3 linked regions of the Homo sapiens genome follow. The protein of the gene in region 1 binds, or shares a complex with, the protein of each later gene. Each region holds a gene or a part of one and is shown in the gene's direction. Other genes may lie near its edges.

Region 1 (7,883 bases):
TTTGTTTGAATCCAAAGCCCATGAGAAACCTTTTTGATTTGCATATTATTATAGGAAATAGGAATTTGTTGTTCCCAGAGATTTCTTGCTACAATTTTTTCACTGTGCAGTAAGCTACCCATTTGCTCACAATAAGCCCCATAAAGACAAAAAGGTAGGATCCTTTTCTGGCATGTCATAAAATTGAGGAACCTTCTTTTTTTTTTTTTTTTTTTTTAATTGAGACAGGGGTCCGCTCTGTCATCCAGGCTGGAGTGCAGTGGCGTGTCTTGGCTCACTGCAGCCTCTGCCTCTTGTGTTCAAGCGATTCTCATGCCTCAGCCTCCCGAGCAGCTGGGATTACAGGCATGCGCCACCACGCCCAGCTGATTATTGTATTTTTAGTAGAGATGAGGTTTTGCCATGTCGGCCAGGCTGGTCTTGAACTCCTGGCCTCAGGTGATCTGCCTGCCTTGGCCTCTCAAAGTGCTGAGATTACAGGTGTGAGCTACTGCACCCAACCAAAATTGATGAACATTCTTGAACTTAGTTATCTACTTACAGAAGATAGATGATATTTAGCTTCCCAAACAGCTTGCAGGTAAATTTTCTAATAAGGCTTTTGATACAATAAACATCCTGTGATTCTGTTCTTCGGCAATGAACAACTTCTACCTTTCCTCTTGGAGAAGTGAGTACTGACATTTTTTATCCTGTCCCCAAAAGAGAGAAAAAAGTCCACTATTAATCTGATATGATAAGCCAGTTTGGTTATAATACACACAAAACTGAACACTAATTCAATTTCCATGTGGTCAGAGTGAACATGGTGTGAGAATACTGGTGTGACACGTTTTCCCCTGGGTGTAGTCTGTGACAACTGTCACTGCAAACCAGCTGACGTTCCTCCATAGGAGAATGAAGTTTCTGAGAACTGGCCTGTTTAGAAGTTTCTGCAACTATATTCTTTGTTTCCAACAAAGCTGCTTTAAAAAATTCTAACAATAGAATTGGAAAAACATTGAAAGGAATTATTTACGGATTCAGGGTCCTCTTATATTTAATCGGCCACGATGGCATGTGGTGAAGAGTTACTGGGGAAATACTGACAGCTGCTGCCTATGTTCTTAATAGAGTTCTCCAAACTGGAGCCCTGAAGGTCAGCAGTCTTGAGACATATTTTGAGACCAAAAAAGTTCTGTGGTTAAGTGTAGGAAATGCTCGCAATAGGCTTCCTGAAGGGCCACCAGGCCCATTAACATCTTTGAGAGGTTCCATAATAAAGCAACTTGTTTTCTTTGTATAACCCAGCCTTTCCGACACTCTTTGGGAAGAGAATCTCTAATGACGGCAACAGTGGAGAACCTAACGTTCCAGAAGGACACTTTGGGAAATGCTGTTGACAAAAACAGTAGGTCACAAAATGATTTCAATTTCTCTCTCATTGTCTCAATTTCTGTAAGTCTCTCTTCTCTCTTTCCCTCCCTTCTTTCCTTCATAGGGAAAGCCATTTTATTATATACTAGCCAGTGAGCTCAAAACAGGGAAAACAATGAAGGAGAAATTAATAATGTCTAGACTCCTATCGAAGCTAACCATAAATATTGTCATTCCTTGTTCTGGTTTTAAATTGAAAGCAAAATTGGAATGAGACATCTTGTTTGTGAAACATATCATAAACTAATGCTACAAGTATATAAAAATTCTGAATAAAATAAGGAAGTATAATTAATTAGATAACTGACTTTGGTAAAAAGAAAACAAGAAAAGAAGAAAGAAAGCGAGCGAGGGAAATTCTCCAACCAGGTGGCAATGATGTGAGCCGATCTGACACAGGTTTTGGGGATAGAATGGACCTCACTCCAAACAGAGAATTAAAAATTAAACCATGCATCTACCTGGGACTTTGGATGGGCCCCTCGGTAAGTGAGGGGGCTAGAAAAATTAAACTCACCAGCCCAAGAAAGTGACAAGCTTTCTCTACACAAAGCTCTAGGTAGAAAATAAAGCAAAAATACTGCTGAGAAGTCCAAATTCTAGACTAAAGTGGGTATGGCATTCTAGTCCACACAATCTGTGTATTATGGGAGTCACCAAGAACTTTAGATGATAGACTCTGAAACAGACTACAAACTAAGTATGTTTATAATAAAGAAATATAGAAAGAGAAACAAAAGTCATGAGAAGAGAACAGGTCATTATTTAAAAAAGAACAGAAACTTAAAAAATGAAATACGTGGTTATTAAAATTTAAACTAAGAGGATGGGTTAAAAACAGAAGAATAAAGAAAATAAACTGGAAGATACTTATGAACAAATTATCTAGAAAGAAGCACATAGAAACAGAAAATACAGAATTCAGTAAAGACACATGTAAGACAGAATGAAAAACATCTGTCTTATGGGAATTCCAAAAGGAATAAATGAAACATTTGAAAATAATGGCTAATTACTTTTAGCATGGATGAAAGACATGAACCTTCAGTTCAGAGCAAAAAATACAAATAAACTCCAAATATATAGTAAAACTACAAAACCCTAAAGACAAACAGAAAACTTTAAAGGAACCTGACAAAAGACAGACTGTCTATAAAAAATAATTAGACTGACAGAATATTTCTCATGAGCAACATTAGAAGCCAGTAGCACGGGGGTTAGCAAACTTCTGTAAAAGGCCAGAGAATAAATACATTAAGCTTTATGAGCCACATGTTGTCTACACAACTAGTCAACTCTGCCATTGTAGCACAGTAACAACCAGAGACAATATCGGCACAAATGAGCATGAATGTATTCCCACAAAATTTTACTTACATACACTGAAAGTTGACTTATGTATAATTTTCATGTGCCATGTAATTTTTAAAAAATGTTTAAAATGTAAACTACATATAAAGTTTAATGTAAAATGTGTGTGTGTATATGTGTATGTATGTGTGTGTGTATATATATATATATATATCCCTAGCTCATTCACAGTCCATACAAAATAGTCAATGGGCTGAATTTAGTCTACGGCCCATAGTTTTCTAACTACTAGAATAGTGTTTTAAAAATATAAAAGGAAAAAATAACCATTAACCTAGACTGATAAACCTAAACAATCACTTTAAAATGAAGATAAAATAAAGACAATTTCATACAAAGACTGAAAGAATTCAAAGAATCTTGTAGAAAGAACTAGGAGATGGTATATTCTGAGAAGAATAAAATCAGAAAGAAGTGGAATACAAGATTAAATGCTGGGAAATAAGAAGGTAAACATGAAGGTATATCTACAAAAGCATTGATGGCAAAAAGTAAGAAGGATAATACATTTTTCCTAAAAAAAAAAAAAAAAAAAAACAAACAAAAAAAACACACACAGAGATGAACTGAATTGCCAGACAACAGAAATGTAAGAGAGAAGGATGGTGATCAGAAGCAAAGTATTCTAGCATGTTTGTACTTTTGAGCAAAGGCAACAGATGATTAAACCAATGATTCATTTGGTAAATCAATTGTTTACAGTAACACATTTAAGGAAAATCACTTCAAAGAAACATCTTTTTAATATTTATTTATTTTGTTAGGTGGCTTTATGAAAGTGATATAAAATCTTCTCTATTTAAATTTTGAAAAGTGAGATAAAATATCTAAATAATATGGTTAATAAAGAGTTATGGCAAATACATTGATGTTGGTTATAACTGACTGCAGTTCTAGAAATCTGCATAAATCTTTTGTTGAAAGTAATATCTGCATTGGTAGACGTGATATTACTACATACATAAATATATATTTTCCCCAAACACCAAAAGAGCTTTGCAACTGTGGAAATTATCCTAACAAATGAGCTGCCAAGTCATGTCATTATACATTTGTCCAACCTCATAGAATGTACACCAAGAGTGAACCCTAATATAAACTATGAACTTTGGGTGATAATGATGTGTCAATGTAGGTTCAAGATTGTAACAAATGTACTGCTCTGGTGGAGGATATTTTTAAGAGTTGGAGGCTGTTAGAGGAGGGAAGAGGTACAATAATTGATAGCAGGAAGCTGTGGAGGGAGGAAATCTCTGTGTCTTCCACTTAATTTTGTTGTGAACCTAAAACTTCTCTAAAAATGTCTATTAAAAAAAATTCTCTTAACCTTTGCTTTTCAGTTTTTGAGGGCAGGTTAAGTATTATAACAGCTAACATCTACTGAGCATTTGTCTTTAATCCTAGTGAAACAGATGTTATTAGCCTTGTTTTATAGTTGAGGACATTGAGGCTAAGAAAATTTAACTAGAGTAATTAAGGCACACACAGAATTTAAACATGTTTCTTATCACAAGACTGAGTTGTTTTCCAGTTACTCTATTTATATTTTTTCCTAATATCTGGCTTCAAAGTACCTTCTGTTATTTTTAATTCCAAGCCTTAGAGTTAATTATTTGGGCACCTTAGAATTATTTGGGCACAACTGTCCCGAAACCAGAAACGAGGGGGCGTGGACCCAGAGACTACTAGAATGCAATGCTCGAGGCATTGCAGCCTAAAAGGGCGGCAGCTCGCCCCGTCGCATGCTGGGAATGGTAGTTTCCTCGCTCTCCCTTCTTCCCCCGCCCTCGAGCATCCAGATTGGAGCTCCGTTCTTACTCCCTTGCAGGGCGCCACGGCTCGACAGAGCCACTCGTCCTCGCCTGGTCATCCCAGTTCCGGAGGCTGACCTGGGGATGCGCCCTGGACGCCCTGCACCGCAGTCCTTGCGTCGCTGCTAGTCAGCACGGCGTTACCCACCTCATCCGCAGCTCCAGGACGCCGCACTCCACGCGCTGCCGCAAGGAGGACGCGCAGCCTGGTCACCATGGAAACGGTGCCGCCTCCGTCACGGCTCAAGCGAGAGGTCAAAGGTCAGTCCTGCAAGTTCCGCTTCCGGTTCCGAGATCCTGTTTGTTTTCTGAAAGCTTTGTGGTTTCGGTGAGCTCTCAGAGCCGATTTCTAGCGTCCGTGCCGGGGACAGGTGTCCAGAGGTCGACTGCTGCAGACATGGCGGCCTCCACCGCGGCCGGGAAGCAGCGGATTCCCAAAGTGGCCAAGGTAGGCGATCGCGAGGGGCCTTGTAGGAGGTGGCCTAGGAAAGGGGCATCCCTCAGCCCTGAGGGTGCCCGGGTTGGGAGAGAGTGTTCCCGCCGGGGAGAAGGCTCACCCTGAGAGATGGAGAGGAAGGGCAGCTGGTGGTGGGGCGCGGGCTCTTGTCATCGCGGAGCACGACCCGCGTTGGCGTGGCCTTCGTTCTGGGGTGGTTTTGCTGGGGAGTGGAGTGGGGTGGTTCGGTGAAGATTTACTGAGCCAGGCACTGCACTGGGCGCTGGGAAGCTACGCTCGTACGCTGGCCACAAGCAGTACTCAAAACACGAGTTTCTGTATAAAGACGACCTTGCTAGATGTTACCGAGAGGCAAAGTAGAATATGCCATGGGCGTGAATAAGGGGGTCGTATGAAGGGGTCCTGAAAGTAAATTTTGCTGAGGAAATGACCTTTAAGCTGAGACTTGAAGGCTGAATAGGAGTTAGCCCAGCTGACAGCGGAGGGCGAGAGTAGACGGTAGGAGTAGTATAGTATCATAAGTTAATTAAACAGTAGACTTACTATCTGGTATTTCCTTTGATAGCTAATACTTACCAAGTGCTTAATATGTGGCAGACTTTGAAGCCTTTACAGATACCCTCCCTCCAGTCTTTCTTGAGCCCGGATGACTCTCTTGAACTGGACCTTTACATAACTATTTGTCTGACTCGCAGGAGTAATGCATATAGAGCAAGTAACACTGTGTCTGGCACTTAGTGCTTATTAAATATGAGCTATCACCATTATCATCATTACTCCACATGTGGCATTAAGTAACATTTTTTATAATTCAGCTACATAAACTTTTATTGGGCATCACTGGTCCAATGGAAATATAATGCACACCACATATGAAATTTTAAATTTTCTCATATCTACATTAAAAAGTAAAAACAAAGCAAAAAAGTGAAATTAATTTTGATAATATATATTTTATTTGAGCTAATGTATCCAAAATATTATCATTTCAACATGTAATCGGTATAAAAAATGTAATGAGGTAGTTTATTCTTTTTTATACTTCATCTTCAAAACCAATGTGTATTTTACACTTACAGTCCACCTCAATTTGTACTCACCACATGTGACTCATAGCTACTGTGTTGGACAGCACAGCTCTAAGCTACGTTAGACTGTAAGCTTCTAAGACCTCAAGAAGCTTACAGTCTAATGATGAGAACTTACTGAAATTGCCTTTGACTTGAAGTGCCATGTAAAACCAAACCCAGTTATACACCGGGGCATTAAATAAGTTGAAGAATTCTGTAAATGCAGGTTGTAATGCTGTTAATAAGATGTGCTACACATTTTGATAAAACAAAACCTCTGGTCAGAATTTTACCTAGACGGCCTCAAAGTTTATTATTATACTCATCTAAAAGGGAAAACTTGCTATTATTTTTGCCACCTTTTTCTCTTGAGACTTTTACCTATGGCTTTGCAGTAGATACTATGAATAAGAGAGAAAACGGTATTTTTTTTTTCTTTTCAGTCTCATGGAGGAATGGGAACATGTCATACAAAAAGGGCATCTTGTGATAATACTAACAAAGTTCATATCCTAAAAAATGTATGTTTGTTTCTTAAGCCTTGTGTGAAGAGCAACTACTAAAAATAGAAATGTCTTCTTTCTTAAAAGGTGAAAAACAAAGCCCCGGCTGAGGTACAGATAACTGCTGAACAACTCTTAAGAGAGGCTAAAGAAAGAGAACTTGAGCTTCTTCCACCTCCACCTCAACAGAAGATCACAGATGAAGAAGAATTAAATGATTATAAACTAAGGAAAAGGAAGGTCAGTCAGTGTGGTATCTTTCAGTCCACTAATTGTTAAGACTGTATCGGTCAGTTTGAAAAGCTCCTCATTGGTTGGATTCTGTAGGGCAAGATGAGGTTAAGTGTTTCCAGACGCATGAATAATGTACTTCTGGTTACCAGATAACAGCATTTTTCTGAACTATATAAAATATGCCATGAGTTGTCTGGTTAAAGTGTAAAGAAATTGAATCTGCATAATTTTTGATGCTGAATCAAAGTGAGCGGAAGTTTAGCAGATGGAACAACTGACAACAAGAAGGAGGGTATGCTTAGTAAGGCTGCACTGTGTACTTCTGTCTATACCACCTTCTGTGTTAAGAATTGAGATCTGGCTGGGCACAGTGGCTCGCGCCTGTAATCCCAACACTTTGGGAGGCCGAGGCGGGCAGATCACCTGAGGTCAGGAGTTTGAGACCAGCCTAGCCAACATGGTGAAACCCCATCTCTACTAAAATACAAAAATTAGCCAGGCGTGGTGGCAGGTGCCTGTAATCCCAGCTATTCGGGAGGCTGAGACATGAGAATCACAGCAACTCGGGAGGCAGAGGCTGCAGTGAGCCGAGATCGTGCCACTGCACTCCAGCCTGGGCGACAGAGCAAGACTTTGTCTCAAAAAAAAAAAAAGAAAGAAAGAAAGAAAGGAAAAGGAATTGAGGTCTGCAAAAGGACCATGAGAAGACTTTGGGATCTGATTTGACCTCTTCACTCTAGAATGTGGGACTGTTTTAAAGCACTAATGCTGTTATATATGAAATTCTGAGAATTACCAGAGGACTTAAAGGTAATAGTCAAAAACATTTTTTATTAGGGACAAGCATAGACCATTTTAAAGTATCAGTTAGTTGACTGTAACCTTCTGTAGTGGGTTTCTTATTCCTCAAGGATTCCAGGATGTAATTTCTCTTAAATATGAACAAAATGAATAACCATTTTAGTACAAGACTTAAAATAGACCAAGGGTGCTGTCATTTTTAGTCATTTGTCTTTTGACT
Region 2 (7,026 bases), on another chromosome or scaffold:
CCTTCTAGACTTCACCAAGAAATCATACTAAGTAAGAGAATTGGCCACCTTCTCTTTGGCTTTTAACTGGCTTCTGAAAAGTAGCTGATTATAGGGCCAGTAAGCTCCTTTTACCAGTATTAAAGTAATTCATTTGCTGTTATACTTTGAGAAAAGTATTTTTATGAATTTTTTATAAAATTCTCAGAAAATTCTCATTATAGAAGTAATGAAGCTTATAAGTAATTCAGACAGAAATAGCATAACTTGGAAGTTTTCCATAATCCGTGGGGGAATATATCTATATTCCATAGATATAATTGCTATTACTAGTTTAGTGTCTGGTTATTTTTCAAAACCCCAACTGTACCAGTGTTCTTTTTTTTACATCATTCTAAAATGAGCATAAGATAAAATATTTGAATCTTGGATATATCACTTTAAACAAAAATTAGTGGCTAAGTCTACCCAAAGTAGAGTCCTAGTGCACTGGTAGCAGTTTTTGTGCCTTCTTGCAATACGTTTCACCTGGCTTGGGAAGAAATGCCGATGATTAAGCTTCCAGTTATTTTGGACAGAATTTTTTGTTTGAGTCTTTTAAAGTTCTTTTCAGGGAACCAAATCAATTTGGAAATAAAGAGGGGAAAAATCAAGTAAGCTCTGTAAAGTTACTTTGTTTCTGCAGTCAGGTTTTTCAGAGTCCCATATTTTGAAAATTTTCTTTGGGGAGGGGTTGTTAAGATATATTGAACTATTACTACTGTTGCAAAGAATTGATGTGTTGTGCTCATAGAGGAAATTAGTGAGGTAAATGGTCAGTCAATTTTCAGGCATCACACTTTTCTAATTCCCTTTTAGGAGAAAAGTAATGCTGGTGCTTCCTAGTACAAGATTAGTGGAAACAGCTATTTCTTATACTGGAGTTTTGCAAACAGCATGTTTAAATTGTGCTTACTCAGCCATTTAGCAGTCAATATTTTACAGATTGTTTAAGATTCCCTTTCAGCCAGTTTTTATCTCACACTTAAGGTAGGGTTTCTTTTTTTCAGGTTCTCAGGAATTCTTCCGCCAAAGGTGAATTCTGCAGGTACACATAATTGCAACAGAACTTAACACAAATTTTGCCGCAGAATTCGAGAGGCCCCTGCTTCTAAGTTTATGTAGCTAAATGAATTCTTAGTTTTGCACATCTTTTTTAAAAATGCAACCTAAAGGTTTCTCAACATTGTGTTATTAAATGGAAAATACCTTGCCCCCAAATTTTATATGCAAACTCCAAAACACCAATACCATTCCTAAGGCAGAAGGACTAGTTAGTTATTTTATTATAGCATTCAACCTGACAAGTTTTATAACTGGAGAGAGAACACAGACAGAAGTATTTATCAGATTAAGTTGTTTATATTAATCTCAGAACTAGCTGTTTCCTGGCCTAGGTTATGGTTTTTTCCCCCATTCTTTTGGACTCATTTATGTGCTTAGCTACATAAACTCAAAAGTCGGATTAAAATAGCTGTATTTTTGTGTAAACTGTTCATACCTGTAAGGCCGTTCTTTATAAGTGTGCAATTAGTGAATATGAATACTTTATTCCACAGAAGAAGACGTTCGTCAGCATCCTTGTCTGGGAGTAGCTCATCATCCTCTTCATCTCGTTCACGGTCACCACCAAAGAAGCCTCCCAAGAGGACATCCAGCCCCCCTCGGAAAACTCGTAGGTTATCTCCTTCAGCAAGTCCTCCAAGGCGAAGGCACAGGCCATCACCTCCTGCAACTCCACCACCCAAAACTCGGCATTCCCCTACACCCCAGCAGTCAAACCGTACAAGAAAAAGTCGTGTTTCTGTGTCTCCAGGGAGAACTTCAGGTAAAGGTAAAAATCAAACACATATGAAACATGGTCTCTCTTTCTTTGGCTACAAAGCGTAGTCAGTTATTGCCCCCTGCTCACTCTCAAAGTATGAAATAGCTAGATAATATTTGTATCTAATACTCTCTGTAGGTTTACTTATAAGCCTACCTCTTTCCTGCTTTAAAATCTTGGGGCTTTTTTATGTGTAAAAGGGTTTTGTTTTTAGCAATGCCCTGTGGCATTGCGCAGGTGGAGAAATCTTTTACCAGCCGTGGGCTGTTTGAGTTGGGGTAACATATCAAAGTTTGCGTTGGCATGATAAGGGATCATTTTATTACTATGAGACCAGTTAACTTTTTTTTCTCCTGAAGATTTTTGGTTTGATATCTTAAATAAGAGGACTTCATATTCTCTTTTAGTTCTTTCTTGGTCGCATTGCGCTCCCAAGCAAAGGACATGGTGTCCTCTTAAAAGCTGATTTGTTTTTTTAATTTAGGTTCTAGGCAGGGTTCTTCTGAGTGTTGTCCTTGCTTTATTCTGCAGATTGATTTCTGAGGAATTTATGATCTGTGAACCTGCCAGGCAAGTAGAATGCTGTGTTAGTCTGAGTGAAGGTTGTGGTCTATTGGGGTTTGTTCTGTGAGCATTAAATACGCATGGAAAAAACTGTAGTGTCCATTTGAACCAGGCTCTCTGGAGCTTAGGGCTGGAATGATATACAGCCTAAAAGGTGAGTAGTAAGGGATGGGGAGGATCTTAAAAGCTGCTAAAGCAATTGAGTTTTAAGGAGCAATCTGTAGGTTAACACACGCTGGGGTTATTATGATCATATTGAAAATTTCAGGTTAGAGCCAGGTGTGGTGGCATGAGCCTGTGGTCCCAGCTACTCAGAAGGCTAAGGCAGGAAGATCACTTGATCCCAGAAGTTCAAGGCTGGCCTCAGCCCCATAGCGAGATCCTGACTCTTAAAAAAAGAGAGAGAAAAAATTTCAGGTTAGAAACAAAGAAATGGGGATGGGCAAAATTTTCATTATACATTTTAATGAGCTTGATGAGACCAGCATTGCTAATTATTCACCCTGTTGCCTTATCTCCCCACTCCCCAAGGCTGCAATGTGGTGATACCTAGAAAGGCAAATTTTGCTTTCCTTTTTTGTATCTGTGACAATGAGGCATAGATAAGCTGACAGAGTGAAAGGGTGACCAGCAGATTATGATAGTCTGTAAAAAGTAATGTTTTCTGAATTGTGACATTTTTATTGTAGTGATAGGTTCATTAAATAAGACATGGCCACTTTTGTTGGCCCCTTAGAGAAGCAGCTAGTGAAAGTAGAGAAGCCTGTAACTGTTCCAGGTTCAGTCCTCAGTTTGAGAGAGGGGCTTCGGGATCACTGTTTTCATAACCTCATGTACCATACTGCTTTTCAGCATTGGGAAAATTTCAGTCCATTTTCAGTTACCATGTCCAAATCTGATGCCCATGGCCCTGGCCTATTTTGTCTTTTCCTGTAAAGTTTGTACTTCTGAATATTTATTCTTTGTCTGGAGCCACAAAGCTCTCCAGGGAAAAAAACAAGTGTTTTTACCTGTTACTTTGCAAAAACACATCAAGTGATGATTTTTTTCTATTTATATCATATAGCCTAAGAGTTGCAAAAGTACCTGAACAGAGGGACCAATCCTTGTTAAAATAGGTTGATTGTTAAGAATTATTAGGTACTTTTAAAAAGCATCTGCACAGATGCTAATTTCTTGTGTTTTGGCATATACTTTTTGCAAACAAGACAAGAGTGGATATGTACATAGGAAAGAAGTAAGCCATGGTGAAAATAAGTATTTCTGTGGGTTTTGGGACAGGGCTTCCGTGTTCAAACAACCTACCCAAAGAGAGGCACTACAGGCAGTGTAGTCAGTCTCCCCTGTGACCACTGGAGCTGAATATTGGTTTGACCTACTTGGAAATAACCTCTCCCCACCACCCCGCTAAATAGAGCCAGCATCTCACTCTGTCACTCGGGCTGGAGTGCAGTGGCCCAGTCATAGCTCACTGCAGCCTCCAACCCCTGGGATTACAAGTGTGAGCCACCACACCCGGCCCAGACAACCTTTTATATTAAACTGATCCCAGCCCTCTGTGATGAAATTTCAGAGCTAGAAAAGACCTTAACAGTTGTCATCAAGAAACAGATTTTCAGGTTAGTTGACTTGGTCAAGGTCAACCAACTAGGAATAAAACTTGAGTTGTCATTCCCAGTTAAATAGTGAATACTTTTCACAACTTTCCTACCCCAGAACTCTTCTTTGATTGCTAAAGGTGAGAAATGGAGGGCAGGGTTGAAATTCTTTAGCTTCTCTATCTGGTAGTATGATTTCAGAAATTACTTTGCAGTTTCTGCTGCTTAGAACAGTAACATCATTGAAATGTAATAGATATTACAGTTAATATTTTCCCTAGTGGCCACTAATCAGGGCTTTAGGGCTCTGCTCTTGATAGTGGGCAAATGGAGTGGGAGGGAGGCAGGAAAAGTGTTTTGGGGAACTTACAGGTTAATTATTTGGAATACAGTATACAGTCATCTGAAGGGATCTTAGGGGAAACATTTGTAATTACTGACATTTCATAAATTGGCATTATCTTAGTACATAAAATAGTGCTTGAAATCAGTGGCACAGTCAGCGAAGTATGTTAACATGATCAATACTGGTGGTGACGGTGTGGTAATTTTGATTTATTTAGATTAGCTTGGCCACATACATTGTGCTATCTGGACACTTAAATGGTTATTTTACTATTGTTGGTCACAGAGTAACTTATCTTTATAAGTGATCTTTTGGGCAGGTCTAAGATTAATAATTAATAGGACTGTTGGAGTAAATTTAAAATTGTGGTTTTAAAGTTGCCTTCTACGATTTCTGACTTCATGCTAGAATGATTTTGTCCCTTGAATACTTAAAACAACATTAACATAAAGTAAATGGTGTAAAGTCTCATCTAGAAAAATAGAAATCTGAAGTGCTGTTATAATATTAATAATGCTGTGATTCAATTGTATTAAACCAGAGTAGGAGTATATAAATGATAGTTGTTTGATGGTATAAATTTTTTTTTTTTTTTTTTTGGAGACGGAGTCTTGCTCTGTCGCCCAGGCTGGAGTGCAATGGTGCAGTCTTGGCTCACTGCAACCTCTGCCTCCCAGGTTCAAGCAATTCTCCTGCCTCAGCCTCACGAGTAGCTGGGATTACAGGCACATGCCACCACACCCAGCTAATACAAATGTATTAATAAAGACTACTTTAGCTGAGTAATTAGTGAGAAATTGAATCAGGATGCAACTCCAGATGTGTATTTCCACTGGGGGAGAATGGAAATAATGTTAAATTCACTTGTATTATATAATGAGTAGGCTTTTGCCAACTATCTTGTAAGCATAACCACATTTTTAATGTTTCTTAGGGGAAAATGTATCCAAACAATCAGCTTCCAAAGCAAGCTTGGGAACCCAGTTCTCTAAGGTGTGGTAACTTGGACATGCACTTTTTAACGACGTGCCCATAATATCTTTGCAGAAATTGAGGATTAAGTAACACTTAAAAATAGAGAATATGGACTTAGAAAAAGAGCCTCAAATAGTTAACAATTTTAAAATATTTTTATTTCTTTGAATTTGTTAAAATATAAGTATTAAGTATAGTTTGCTATTTGCACTGTCATGATTCCTGATATCTAATTGAGTGATAGCCATTCTTTACCCAATCCAGTGATTTGTCCAAATGGCTTATTACGTAGAAATTTTAAGAAAAGTCGCTGGGCGCGGTGGCTCACGCCTGTAATCCCAGCACTTTGGGAGGCAGAGGTGGGTGGATCACCCGAGGTTGGGAGTTCAAGACCCGCGTGACCAACATGGAGAAACCCTGTCTCTACTAAAAATACAAAATTAGCCGGGCGTGGTTGGCGCATGCCTGTAATCCCAGCTACTCAGGTGGCTGAGGCAGGAGAATCCCTTGAACCCGGGAGGCGGAGGTTGCAGTGAGCCGAGATCATGCCATTGCACTCCAGCCTAGGCAACAAGAGCGAAACTCTGTCTCAAAAAAAAAAAAAGAGAGAGAAAGGGAAAAGTCTGTTCATTGAAAAGGCATACTGGTAAATTCTTCATTTTGACTTCTTTAGCAAAGATGCGATTACTGTGTTAGATCACTGGTTCTCTAATTACTGCCCCTTGGAATAAACCATTACAGAATTCTGAATGTGAGTGTCTGTTAAATGAGATGTATCTGTATTCTGAGTCAAACATTCCATGGCAATTGCTTTAATCACACAAAACAGGTATCAGGATCCTGAGAGGATCAAATTGTCTGTAGGTTTATTTCTTATTGGGATGTTCTCAAGTGGTGTTTTAGGTTAATTTATGGTATATATATGTTTATATGTGAATATACTTATGATTTTAGTTGTAGCAATGGATAGATACTATAAGCAGAGTTAGTTGTTGAGATTAAAACCCATGGCCTAAAAATAGATTCTTGGATTCACATCTTAGCTCACTTAAATTGTCTTTGTGACTGAGGTGAAGTTGCTTCTTTTTAAGCCTCAGGTTTCCTCTCTTGTGAAATGGAACAGGGAGAAAGGGATGTGATACTACTGTGTTAATAGTGTGTCTAATACAGCAGGCTTACAAAAGGTAGTTACCATATTTCTATGTTATTGGTAAAAGACAATTGGATAATTCATAGGATACCCACTGCTCTCCTACTACTTGAGGTATAGAAATGCCTTTTTTTCTTTCTAGCTCTTTGGAAAGAATCCTCGTCTTTGTATTTAATCATTTTTACTATTTGTGGCGGTCTGCTTTTTTTCATGGGTAGTTTAAATCCCCTGTGCTATTGTGAAGATTATGCTCTACATAAAGAACCTTTAACCTGTTGGGCAGTCATTCTTCTTTTCTAGACCAAATATCTTTGTGAAAGTTTCATGAGATCTTATTTCTTAATCATTTATCATCTTTTACTTTTCTGAACCCACCTATTGTGGTTGCTTAAAAGCTTTCATGTTGATGAAGTCTCTGAAGTTGAGTGTGAGGGAGTGAGTGTGGGTGTGGAGGGTGTGTATTTTAGATTGTGGAGCTCGTGTAGCACACAGAGGTTTACTTTACTGAGCTTGTTCTACTCAGTAGCAGCTCCCAATTTCCTTTAACTGT
Region 3 (7,026 bases), on another chromosome or scaffold:
TCTTATGTACTGTGTACTAAATACAGTTGTTAGAATACAGATTATAATTTTTAAAATATGCATTGTATATCCAGTTATACTTTGCAAATATAAATAATTATGAGGGTGTCTCCAAGACACTAAAATAGGAACTTTATAAATTATGTCAGTAACTGTATCAGTAAAATGCCTGGCCCACAGTAGATACTTGATAAATATTTTTCATTGAATGAGTTATATTCAGGTTGTATTCAGTTGCAGGTAATAGAAGACCCAACTCAAAATGATTTAAATAATAAAGACATTTATCCTCCTGTATGTCAAGAAATCTGGTGAAATCTTTAGGGAAGCTCAGTGAAATCTTTAGGGAACTGTGCTTTTTCCATCTTTCTGCTTTGTAACCCTCAGCATGTGATTGAATCATGACTGCCTAACTCGATGATTGGCTCAACCACAACCTGCTTTGTTGCTATTTGCTTTTTGTTTGTTTTTACAACAACAAAAATAATAGCTTTTGTTTATTCAGTACTTCATACTACATATGTTTTCCTCTTGTGCTTACCTAATGTAAGTACAGAACTAATTTCAGTGATGTAAAATTTCTTTCCTTCCACCTAACGGATTTTTTGAAAAAACTGTGGTGAAGTTTATATAAAATAGAACTAACCATTTTAAAGTGTACAGTTCAACATCATTTAGTATATTCACTATAATGTGCAGCCGGCACCTCTATGTAGTTCTAAAACACTTTATTACCCCAAAAGAAAACTCTGTATCCATTAACCCAGTCATTCTCTATTCTCCCCTTGATATGGTTTGGCTCTGTGTCCCCACCCAAATCTCACCTTGAATTGTAAACCCCATAATCCCCACATGTCTAGGGCAGGACCAGGTGGAAGTGATTGGATCATAGGGGCATTTTCTCCCTTACTGTTCTTGTGATAATGAGTGAGTCTCATGAGATCTGATGGTTTTATAAGCATCTGGCATTTCCCCTGCTTGCGCTCACTCCATCCTGCTGCCTGAAGAAAGTGCCTGCTTCTCCTTTGCCATCCGCCATGATTGTAAGTTTCCTGAGGCCTCCCCAGCAATGTGGGACTGTCAATTAAACCTCTTTCCTTTATGAATTATCCAGTCTTGGGTATTTCTTCATAGCAGTGTGAGAATGGACTAATATACCCCTCCTCCACCCACAGCCCCCAGCAACCACCAATCTATTTTCCATCTCTGCAGATTTACCTATTCTAGATATTTCTTATAAATGGAGTCAGACAATATGTGACTTTGTGTTTGGGTTCTTTCACTTAGCATGTTTTTGAAGTTCATCCATTTTGTAGCATGTATGAGTATTTCATTCCTTTTTGTGACAGTCATATTCCATCATATGTATATATCACATTTTATTTATCCATTCATCCATTGATAGACATTTGAATTGTTTACACCTGTTGGCTCTTGTGAATAGTGCTGCTATGAACATTTGTGTGTATTTGAGTACTTGTTTTCAACTCTTTTGGATGTATATACAAATATATATATTTTGGATATATATATAAACAATCGATTCTTTTGGATATATATAGAAACAATATATATAAATATATGATGTTTTGTAAAAGCAAATCTGATCATGTGCACAGTGATATATATATTATATATAATTTATATATCAAACAATATATATCAAAATTACTTATAACTATAATTACTTATATATTATATATTATTTATGTGAACTATATATATTTACACTTATAAATTATATATTAATATATAAACATATATATCACTTGTATACACACGCGCACACGCGCGCACACACACACACACACACCGGAATCATAATTGCTGGATTACATGCTAATTCTGTGTTTAACTTTTTACACTATTTTATATTCCCACCAGCAATGTAAAAGGGTTCCAGTTTCATCACATCCTTACCAACACTTATTCTTTTAAGGTTTTTGATGTTAGCCATTCTAGTGGGTGTGAAGTAGTATCTGATTGTGGTTTTGATTTGCATTTCTCTAATGACTAATAATATTGAGCATCTTTTGTTATGCATGTTGGTCATTATTGCTACTTCTTAATGTAAATTCTCTTATTCAGGCAAATTCTAATTCCTGCTTCCCACTCAATTTGTCGCTTATACTTTGCCTCACTGAGATGCCATGCTTCTGCCATTCCCAAGTTAACTTCCTTTTCTTCTATGAAGTATCCTAATGATTTTAGGTTCCAGATAATATATAGTATAGGAGGTCATATACAGTCTCTCCTGTATATTTATGAGTTCTAAATTATATACTCCAATTGTATATTTTTGAATTACATATAAATATTAATAATTTATTTCAATCATTTAGCAAACTGAGCTAATTGGACTCAAGTATGTATTGTGTTATTTGTTTTATTTATTCAAAGTTTCTTGAGGAGGGTGTATTGATGGTTCTAGACCTATAACTAATAAGTAATTTTGATATATTATGAGTTTGTGTGTTAATAAATTAATTTCCTGTGAGGAAAAGAGGAAGCAGTGGGAAATAAGGTATTTATCTTTGCCAGGGTTTCTCAGTCTCCATACAGTTGACATTTTGGGCTGGTAATTCTCTGTTGTGGGAACTGTCTTTTGCAGTATAGGGTGTTTAGCAGTATCCCTGCCCCCTACTCACTGGATGCCAGTAGTATCCCCCATTTGTGATAACCAAAAATATTTTCAGAAATTGACAAATGTCCCCTGGGGCACAATATTGCTTCTCCTCCCTATCAGAACTCTCTAATTTCTGTTTTGAAGACCAGTCCAGAGTTTGAGAGAATCCTAGAAATAAAAACAAGAAGTCAACAGTGATGGTTTCTGTAGAAATGTGTGCTGTTCTGAGAAGTAACTATTTTATAAGAAGGAGGATACAAAAGGTTTTGGCTGGGGAGCGTATTTAACATTCTGGAAAATAAATCTTTTGACTCTAGCTGTATTAATTTTGGTAACTGTAGAGATGATTAATTTTAGACATTGATAAATTATTTTTATTTTTTTTTCAGCTTATTATGACAATACCATTTTTCATAGAGTTGTGCCTGGTTTCATAGTCCAAGGCGGAGATCCTACTGGCACAGGGAGTGGTGGAGAGTCTATCTATGGAGCGCCATTCAAAGTAAGACTGAATTATTATTTTTATTATTATTTTTGTTGTTATTATTATTTCCAAGTCAGTTTGGATTGCTTAATCGAAAATGATTGTGTTCCACAAGAGGAAAAAACGTTTCACATTAGTATATAAACATCAGGCTGGGTGCAGTAGCTCATGCCTGTAATTCCAGCACTTTGGGAAGCCGAGGGGGGCGGATCACTTGAGGTCGGGAGTTTGAGACCAGCCTGGCCAACATGGTGAAACCTCATCTCTACTAAAATTACAAAAATTAGCCAGGCATGGTGGCACACGCCTGTATTCCCAGCTACTCAGGAGGCTGAGGCAGGAGAATTGCCTGAACCTGGGAGGTGGAGGTTGCAGTGAGCGGAGATCGCACCAATGCACTCCAGCCTGGGCGACAGAGCGAGACTCCGTCTCAAATAAATAAATAAATAAATAAATAAATAAATAAATTGTCTGTAAAAGATGCATTAATCAAGAACAGGTCAGTGATTTCTTAACTGCCAACATAGATCTAAGAAGAAAAGGAGTTAATGTCATAGTGAAGATAATAACAACAGCAGGTTCAAGTAAAAGCTAAAAGTTGTGTTTGTTATTAATTTGATGGCACCAATATCATGTTCTTTGAATGAGTAAATATTGGTATCTCTTAAAATATGGGAGTTTTTGAAAAATTCGTTTTTATATTAAGGGAATAGATTGCATTTTCCTTTCATCTTTTAATGAGTCATTGTGTGATTCTTGAAGAAAATACTTGAACTGTTAGCTTTAATTTCCAGATGATAATGGCCTTAGAAATGTGGAATAGTTATTTTAAAAGTCTCAGATGTCACTTTTAGACTATTTTATATTTTACCATGGTAAGACTTCTCATGATTTTAGATACTCCGTCTAGTCGGAAGCATTCTTTTATTCTTTTATTTGGTGTGACAGAATAGCTGTTTTTGACAATTCCTTCCTAATTTGAGATTTTTGCTTCATTATTTTCAGGTAATACAGTTATCTTGTTACATTTTTCAATTAGGTCATTTTGAATACAGTATACAGAGTTATGATCCATTGAGTTCAGATCTCTTGAGAATTATTTATTAAGGAAAAATATCTTCCTTTGTGAAAAGCATTTATGATATAACATGACTACATTTATAAATGAGTTCTGTATCAGGCTGGATGGAAATTCTGTTAACTAAGAGACTAATATATTTGTTAAGTAGCCCTGTCATGGTGAGAAAACCACCTTAGAAAGGCTTGTTCCTGCTCTTTTGAAAACTGGCAAATAGAATCAGTGCCATTTCAGAGAAGATTCAACTTAGGACTTTAAAAAGACATGGTAAAATTACATAACACAATCATAGTAGATTATTTGAATTAAAAAACAAGAACAAAGCAATTGTTTAATGACATTTAGAATGAGATGGGAAGGAGTAATAATTGAATACTCTGCAATGGCTCAAAGGTAGTTTTCTGGGAGAAATAATAGAAGATTTCAAAAGCATAGCTGACTTTGGGATGAGAATAGGGAAATGACTTAGAAATCCATTCCCCCTTGGGTACTCTTCCTTTAGATGTAACTAAGCAGCTTTCTACAAAATAGGGTATATTTCTGTCTGAGTATATTTAGAAGATACAGTCTAGTGAATTCAAGTTTAATAACATTGAAAGAATAGTAAATACTTGAAAATCAATTAAGTAAAATGTCTGCATTTTTTATTAGAAGTTGTATGGGACCTTGCAGGTCAAGTTGAATAACTGCATATGAAGGGTCTTATAACTGAGGACATTCACTAAATCTTTTTACATTTCAGGATGAATTTCATTCACGGTTGCGTTTTAATCGGAGAGGACTGGTTGCCATGGCAAATGCTGGTTCTCATGATAATGGCAGCCAGTTTTTCTTCACACTGGGTCGAGCAGATGAACTTAACAATAAGCATACCATCTTTGGAAAGGTTAGTGTCCAGTGATTTTAAACCTGTGGTTCAGTTTTTGGTTTTATGTTATTCCTTAGACTTCTAAGATACATATGATTAACTTATCTAAGAGCTACCTTTGTAAAAACATTCCATAGGATATGTTTATTATTTTCAAAAATGATGGAATATATTCCTAATATAGTGCACTATGAGGGAGCATCTAAGTTCTTTTTGGATCTTTCAATTCAGTCATTAGTTGTGACTTTAGTGTATTCCTTCTTTAAAATCATAGTAATGGTATGAGCTAAAATGTGCCACTTAGCCAATATTGATTTTACACTTTTGGAAGGACATTTAGGTAATAATATTTAGTAGTTTACAGTTTATTTTCTTAATGATGGATTTTCTTAAGTTTAAAGTGGAATTTGTGTTGACATTGAAACTTCTTACTGTAAATATTACTTTGAATAGTACCTATTTAATCCTGCTCACATTTAATGTCATATTAGGGAACGTCCTTTCTATAGAATTTTTAACAATTCCCTTTAAAAAGGGATTCTGAAGGTTTTCTTCTCTCACTCTTCTCCATTCTCATAAATATGTTTCTATATGTTTTAAGTCTTAGGCATATCGGACATCACTAGTGCATCAGCGCCCTCTGCTGGTTCAGTAAGAATGGTTTCCCCATATACTGGGCAAAACTGGATTTTTGTGGTGATGAAAGGGAAAAAAACAAATTCAGTACAATTGGAAAGCTGGTGTTGTTTTAAAACTCTTGAAAAACACTGAATGAAAGGAATCACACTAAAACTATATGTTGCAATGTTGTTGGTTAATACTTATTAATAACAGTGGGTTAGGAAATATGCATTGGCACATTCTTTTGAGCCACTCCAGCACAGCCTGTCTGATGTTTATAGATTCCCTCCATTTATTCCTTAAAAATAAGAGTGTGTAATAAAATGAGATTTAAGTTGCCATTCTGCATCAGTTTTTACAATTGGGTTATATAACTAACACATCAGAGACAATGTGTAGCATAGTTAGAAGTTAGAAAGGCCATCACTGTTGGTTTTATACCTTCTTTGATCCTCATTTTTCTTATCTGTAGAAGGATAATATTAGTTCCTACTTTTAGGTTGTTTGTGAGGATTAAATGAGATAATGTCTCTAAAGCATTTACCACATTGTTATTGTTATTTGCTTATTTTATCCTATTCCAAAGTTTAAATTTGTTTATGATGTTTGAATGAAAAGTTGTCATTCAGTAGGAGATTATTTGGCATTATATTATTAATAAAAACTTACATTAAATATATATTGGAAATTTCCAAAAAACTTATTGGGGGATTGAACTCCATCCATGCTTTTCTCCTTTAAGATAAAGTTGCTTTATTTGCATTATTAAATGCATATATTTTTATGTAATCACATGAAATTTTCTTTTAATTATTTGAAAGATGTTTTCAAAGGTTTTCTCTTAATTCAAAGGATGAGTGCAATAATTTTCAATTACATTATATTTTTAATTTGATAGGTTACAGGGGATACAGTATATAACATGTTGCGACTGTCAGAAGTAGACATTGATGATGACGAAAGACCACATAATCCACACAAAATAAAAAGCTGTGAGGTAGGAGCATGATTATTACGAGATACAGCACTTACATTGTCGTTTAAGAGGAATTGATTCTTAGTATTTTTAAACTATTGGATTAAGGCTTTATACTATGTTAACATCACAACTCAAATTTTATCTCTAATTTATTTGGGCACCGTTTCTAGTTAAGAATTTTTTTAATTAAAGATTTTAATTCAAAGATGAAACTTTATCTGATAATCCAATGACTGAAAAGCTTACCTCATAATGGAAAGTTAAAGGAATTAGGTTTATTTAGCCCAAAGTAGTGACTTCATAGGTAATTTAAGAGTAATCTGCTGGGCACGGTGGCTCACACCTGTAATCTCAGCACTTTGGGATGCTG

What was found. Proteins that work in one complex are often made in the same cells at the same time.
Region 2: CRNKL1 (region 1) and SRRM1 share a complex: the UniProt entries of both Homo sapiens proteins name them as parts of the minor spliceosome.
Region 3: CRNKL1 (region 1) and CWC27 share a complex: the UniProt entries of both Homo sapiens proteins name them as parts of the minor spliceosome.

The regions. Positions count from the first base shown.
Region 1 is NC_000020.11:20,049,455-20,057,337, reverse strand, and holds the start of CRNKL1 (crooked neck-like protein 1), read left to right. Parts: upstream 1-4,995; coding exon 4,996-5,046; intron 5,047-6,715; coding exon 6,716-6,868; intron 6,869-7,883. Other genes in the region: CFAP61 (cilia- and flagella-associated protein 61), read right to left, coding at 542-684. UniProt on the Homo sapiens protein: Involved in pre-mRNA splicing process. As a component of the minor spliceosome, involved in the splicing of U12-type introns in pre-mRNAs.
Region 2 is NC_000001.11:24,653,278-24,660,303, forward strand, and holds part of SRRM1 (serine/arginine repetitive matrix protein 1), read left to right. Parts: intron 1-1,028; coding exon of another isoform or gene 1,029-1,066; intron 1,067-1,577; coding exon 1,578-1,852; intron 1,853-2,374; coding exon of another isoform or gene 2,375-2,386; exon of another isoform or gene 2,387-2,413; intron 2,414-7,026. UniProt on the Homo sapiens protein: Part of pre- and post-splicing multiprotein mRNP complexes. As a component of the minor spliceosome, involved in the splicing of U12-type introns in pre-mRNAs. Involved in numerous pre-mRNA processing events.
Region 3 is NC_000005.10:64,778,906-64,785,931, forward strand, and holds part of CWC27 (spliceosome-associated protein CWC27 homolog), read left to right. Parts: intron 1-3,015; coding exon 3,016-3,128; intron 3,129-4,930; coding exon 4,931-5,074; intron 5,075-6,575; coding exon 6,576-6,674; intron 6,675-7,026. UniProt on the Homo sapiens protein: As part of the spliceosome, plays a role in pre-mRNA splicing. Probable inactive PPIase with no peptidyl-prolyl cis-trans isomerase activity. As a component of the minor spliceosome, involved in the splicing of U12-type introns in pre-mRNAs.